Linked DNA regions of Homo sapiens: region 2 is linked to region 1. Evidence: fine-mapped expression QTL. A gene starts in region 1. The other region holds a variant in brackets. All regions are shown on one strand. Distances are between the middles of the regions. Region 1 holds the start of CPA3 (carboxypeptidase A3). Region 2 has its middle 45 kb from the start of CPA3.

Region 1 (2,898 bases):
GTAGCTATGACTATTATCCCCATTTTATAGCAGAAGAAATTGAGACCCAGAGATGTTGAGTAAGTTGCCTAAGGCTACAGAGCTAGCGTAGAGCTTGGATTTGAATGTAAGCGTTTGACTTTGAAGAAAATGCTTTTTCCGTACTAGGCTGCTTCTTAGTAATGACCCTCAAACGGAGGAATGCAATTGTCAAGTTTTAGAGTGAGCAATCAGGTTGCAATGCAGAGTTGGCTTTGTGGGAGTCAAGACTAGAGCCCTGATTGCTAGTTAAGGGACTATGGAAATTCTCCTTGCAAGAGGTAGAGTGAACATGAACTTGGCAGTGGCAGTGGAATGGAGGGCAATGTGTGGATTTGAGAAACATTTGGGAGTTAGAATAGGCAGGGCCTTTGATTGATTTGATGTAGAGGTAACTGTATGTTTGACTGGAATAAATCCCAGACCCAGTTCTGGGTTTAAATTTGATGTGTAATCTTGGTCATTTAATTTATTGTCTTTGCACTTTAGCTCTTCTGTTTCAAATGAGTTACATTATAACCCTGACATTGAGAATCTGCTGGAGAATTTGAAATGGCATATATAAGGTGGCTGGTGCAACATAAATAGGAGCAGCTGAATACATGATAAAATTATATTAGGCTGTTGGATTTTAAAGGATTGATCTAACTTTAAAAGTCTTATTTGAAAATGTACCTGCTCTTGGAAAGGGTCACATCTTGATATTAGCCAGTGCCTCAACGTTTTCAGTTAGTACTCAAGAGAAATTATGGCACCAGAGGAGATGAGGGTCGGAGTGGGGAGAATGGAGAGGGAATGGCACCCGTAGGCAAGAGAAAGATGCCCTGATAAGGAGGCCAAGAACAGCTCCTGATTTCATAGTTTTACCTTGAAAAAGCTGGTGTTTGAAAAGCTTTTGGGAGGAAAAACAGAAGTGGTAGTCTTGGAAACCAAGACCAAAACCAGAACAGGTGAAGTATTGGCCATTGGCTGAATTATCCAGATAGCTCCTGCTTTCCCCTTATGTTCAATAGTCTTTTGTAGTCCCATGGGCATTGACAGTAAAATAAGAAGAAGCATCTTTTAGAGAACAGTAAGAAAAGATAAAATATCCCTCTAAATGCTTACCTCATTGGTTTTGGCCAAGTCCTTTATGATGTCTGCTTGTTTTTCATCCTGGGGCTTCACGCGGAACACCTTCTCCCTTTGTGGAGGCAAATGAAAAAAAAAAAGTGAACTGTAAGGAAACAACCTTTAATTCTCTTCTACACAGAGACTGGAACACAGGAAGTAAGATTTACCTGTCAAAGCGGACAGGAGCAATTGCAAGAGTGGTAGCAATCAAACCCACAGGCAGGATGAGCCTCATGGTTCTTCTTTGCCTGCCTTGAGACCCTCTGGCAGTTTTATGCCTCAGCCCTTATCTTGATGAGCAGCTGATTTCCTCTTAGGGTTCTGTTGCACAAACTGTTCCCCTTCTTCCCCCACACCAGGTTTTTTTTTTCCAGCTGGAGAGGGAAAAACACTAACCCACCAAGCACATGCTACTTATCTACCTTTTGCAATAGGAAATACCCATTTTACAGATACAGGATGGGAAGCAAATGCCTTTAGCAAATAACTTGGCCAAGGTAACAGAGAAAGTATGTTCACAGAGCTGGGATTTACTAGTTCTATCTGTTCTAAAATACTACTCTACCATTCTGCTTGAATTGAATGATGGAAGAAATTAGTTTTAAAATTTGCACTTGGAGACTGAGATGAATTTGGGTATCTGGCCATAAAATCTTGGTGAGTGGTTCGTAATAATGTAAAATATATTTTTGAAGCTAGAATGTAAGTTGTGAAATTAAAAACATTTAAATTGACTGGGCACGGTGGCTCACGCCTGTAATCCCAGCAGTTTGGGAGGCCGCGGCGGGTGGATCATCTGAGGTCAGGAGTTCAAGACCAGCCTGGCCAACGTGGTGAAACCCTGTCTCTACTAAAAAATACAAAAATTAGCCGGGCGTGGCGGCAGGTGCCTTAATCCCAGCTACTTGGGAGGCAAAAAAAACCCCAAAAATTTAAATTACAAAATATAAATGTACTAAAAATGCTGTAAGTACTATGGCGAACATTGAAATGTTCACCATTTAGATTTTACAATGATAACATTTTTGTTATATTTTTCCTGTACTTCTCTGGGTAAAGAAATAAACACTAAAGACCTAAAGCACTGCCCTAACTCTTTGCCCTTCTCTTCTCTCTGTCCTCAGAGGTGACCCCTATTTCTAAGGCAACTTGAGAACTACCTGACAGCAAGAAAATATCAATGCTGTAATGTTTATTAATTGGACACTGTCTTCAGAGCCTGGATGCTGTAATTGCCAAATAATGCCTTTTGAGAGTTGAATTAATGAAAGCCACCTATAGACCATTCACAACCATCTCTGGAGGGATGTTTAGTCTTGAACACAACTTGGTTAATTATGGGAGAATAACACCTTTACCTAGAATCATAGGTAACCTAAAAGAGTAAGTGAATTTATCTAATCAGTTAACTTATTAGAATTTCCTTTTTGAAAACCACCTCTTCACATTGACAAACGTATAGCTGACTGTAGATAAAACTTCTCAGAGTCACGCTTATGTACTATCAAAATAGTGTGGTTGGAGACACGCCCCTGTTATATATACAGCAGCAGTAATTCCATTCTTCTCTATCTGATGGGTGTGTGGTAGAACTCGGGACTTTTTTTTATTTCCCCAAATGGATTTTCCGGCTCCAGCCTTGCAGGTAAGGAAGAGGAGGGTTTTACAAATGCCTTCATGTTCTTGACACTGGGCAAGCTCACCAGCACTGAGAACTCCCAAAGCAAATGCTTGCTCCATTGCTTTTGACTAAAGATACTTTTGACC
Region 2 (2,924 bases), 45 kb before region 1:
GAGTGAGTAAAGAATTGAGAACAATAATCCCAGACATCAGCATCCTCAAAGCCACTGTGCAGATTGTCTACTGTTAACGCACTATCACCCCCATCCCCTATTTTATATAAAAGGGGCTGACAGTATTACATTTTAGGAGAGACGCCTAGGAACAACATTTCCCAGAATCTCTTGCCAATGGAATTCTGGTTCAGATTCTGTTAATGAGAAACACTTACTTGGGATATTGAAAGTGGAAAATTAGGAGAAGGTATTACTCTCTGACAGCAGGTGGGCAGGTAAATGGCAAATGGTAGTCATGAGGTTTACTTTGACTCCTGGGCATTCCTTTGTGAATCATTTGCTTTGGTGCTGCAGGGAGCTGACATCATCAGCGGTGGTTTGCTGTGATTCCTTCAGCCTTCTGACCTCTGAAAGCCAGACCTTTGCTCCCACAGATCAACCCATAATTTTGTAAGTATTTGTATTATTTTACTGCATTTAAGATGCCATCAATTCTGTCAAGAAAGAATAAAATGCTACCAATAAGATTACAATTTTTTATCTTTAAGATTTTAATTCTATACTTAAAAGGCTCTTTTAGACCTACTTAGACAAGTTTTCAAAAGTAAATATCACAATTTTACATGCATATAAATGCAAATATGAGCACAATACATGTGTTATTTCACATGTAGAATTTTGCTCTTGTGAATCTTTTTTTTTTCCAGTTAGAGACATCAGTATCTATATTTTCCCACTCTTCAGGAGGCACCAGGAGCATTGGTGAAGGATTATTTCTTTAAAGAGTGCTCCACCATTAACTCTTGCCTTTTCTTCCAAGCTGCTAACAGCTATTCTGAAAGTTTTGCTGGTGTTATCTTGATTTTATCCGTCTTCAAAGAATTCTTAAATGGTTTGTTGATTCAAAATGTGAGAATTTGCAATGGTTTAGATAAACCAATGGGAATGATTCTGTACTTCTCAATGAACTTGTTCTTTCCCCATCTTAATACATGTTCCTGTAAAGCACCAAGAACGAACCTGATTAGTGGTTGTGTAGGGCTCCTGGATATCTATTCTGGAAGATTTTCTGTCAGCTCAGTGGCAATCCATCTGTCAGTTTTGAGCATATCTTTGGGGAAAGATCTCATTTTTGGGTATCATTTTGTAAATACCTGAAATTAAATATAAAATGCATAGAATGTACAACACCCAGAGTGAAGCTAATCTAAATTGTGGGTGATAGTGATGTGTCAATGTTGGTTTATTGATTGTCATAATGACACTACTGGTGCAGGATATTGTTGATGGATAAGATTGTGTGTTGTGGGGGAAGGGAGCTCTGCTTTGTGTTCAGTTTTGCTGTGAACCTAAAATTGCTCTAGAAGATAAAGTCTATTAAAAATTAAATATAACAACACTGTTATTGTCAATTATGCATAGCGTTGTATGTATAGGCTGGTTTTATTTATTTATTTATTTATTTTGACGGAGTCTCGCTCTGTCGCCC[T/C]GGCTGGAGTGCAGTGGAATGATCTCGGCTCACTGCAAGCTCCACCTCCTGGGTTCACACCATTCTCCTGCCTCAGCCTCCCGAGTAGCTGCGACTACAGGCACCTGCCATCATGCCAGCTAATTTTTTTGTATTTTTAGTAGAGACCAGGTTTCACCATGTTAGCCAGGATGATCTCCATCTCCTGACTTTGTGATCCGCCTGCCTTGGTCTCCCAAAGTGCTGGGATTACAAGAGTAAGCCACTGCGCCCGGCTGTATAGACTGTTTTTTGTAATCTGTGTCATGATCTTGATCTCTTCAGCATTGGTAGTATAAGCACTGGGGTTTCTTTAGCATCCTATATTTGACCAAACAAACTGCTGTATTATTTTTCTTAGTTGAATCATATGTTGCTGCAAATTAACTAACTTCTGTTTATGGTGAGTAAAAAGTTTCTGACAAATTGATACTTAGGGCCTGGATGACAGCATGAATTAATCACACAAGCTTCTTTTTCATCTCTTCTGGTTAATTTGATAATTTTCCCTGCCTTCATTTCCCTCCTTAATTCAACTGAAAGCACAGTCTGAGACAAAGATGTGAATACGTATTTAGGACGTGATCACTGGAAGCAGTGACCCTCTAGGGGGATTAACTTCATCCCTGGGGGCATTTACTGTCCCCCACCCACCACTTCTAGGCTCTTTGAGGTAGAAAAGCAAAGCAAAGATGACCTTAGTTTTTGAGTACAAAGAACAGTGATGAAGAGAAAAAGATGGCACTGGAAAGCACTATGCTGGTATTGTTCTTTTTCCATGTTACTTGCCAGATCAAAATGTATAAAGTTGAGACAGCATGATTTTACAGCGTATGCTTTCCCATCCCATATGCATTTGTGCCTCTTTAACAACTGCTTGGGTTGAATGCTTTCTGTCTATCTTAAATGTATCTACTCTACATTCTCTGATTCACTCCAAACCCCTACCAGCCCATAGTAAGCTATTTTTTATTTTTTTTGAGACCGAGTCTCGCTCTGTCATCTAGGCTGGAGTGCAGTGGTGTGATCTTGGCTCACTGTAACCTCTGCCTTCCAGGTTCCAGCACTTCTCCTGGCTCAGCCTCCCAAGTAGCTGGGATTACAGGCCAGCACCAGCATGCTCGGCTAATTTTTGTATTTTTAGTAGAGACAGGGTTTCACCATGTTGGTCAGGCTTGTCTCAAACTCTTGACCTCAAGTGATCCGCCCTCCTCGGCCTCCCAAAGTGCTGAGATTACAGGTGTGAGCCACCACACCTGGCCAGCCTATAGTAAGTTATTAATAATTTGGCAGTCTCATGTGGAAGTCAGCCCCTAGTGAGTCTGGTTAACATGCACTTATTTGGAAGAGACTGTTACTCCAGATGACATTTCTGCACATCAGTTCTGGACTGTGGTCACTCCACCTAGGTGTT

Evidence for each region. PIP is the estimated chance that this variant, and not a neighbour inherited with it, causes the effect.
Region 2: its variant is the best candidate, but not a certain one, in a credible set for the expression of CPA3 in whole blood (INTERVAL, PIP 0.70).

Annotation. Positions count from the first base shown.
Region 1 is chr3:148,863,776-148,866,673 of GRCh38, reverse strand. CPA3 (carboxypeptidase A3) reads right to left here and starts at 1,378. Exons shown (of 11, transcript NM_001870.4): 1 at 1,299-1,378; 2 at 1,126-1,201. The coding sequence starts at 1,366.
Region 2 is chr3:148,908,786-148,911,709 of GRCh38, reverse strand. No RefSeq gene overlaps it. Among named protein-coding and RNA genes, the nearest start is that of CPA3, 45 kb to the right of the region's middle. The variant T/C (reference allele first, on the strand shown) is at 1,493.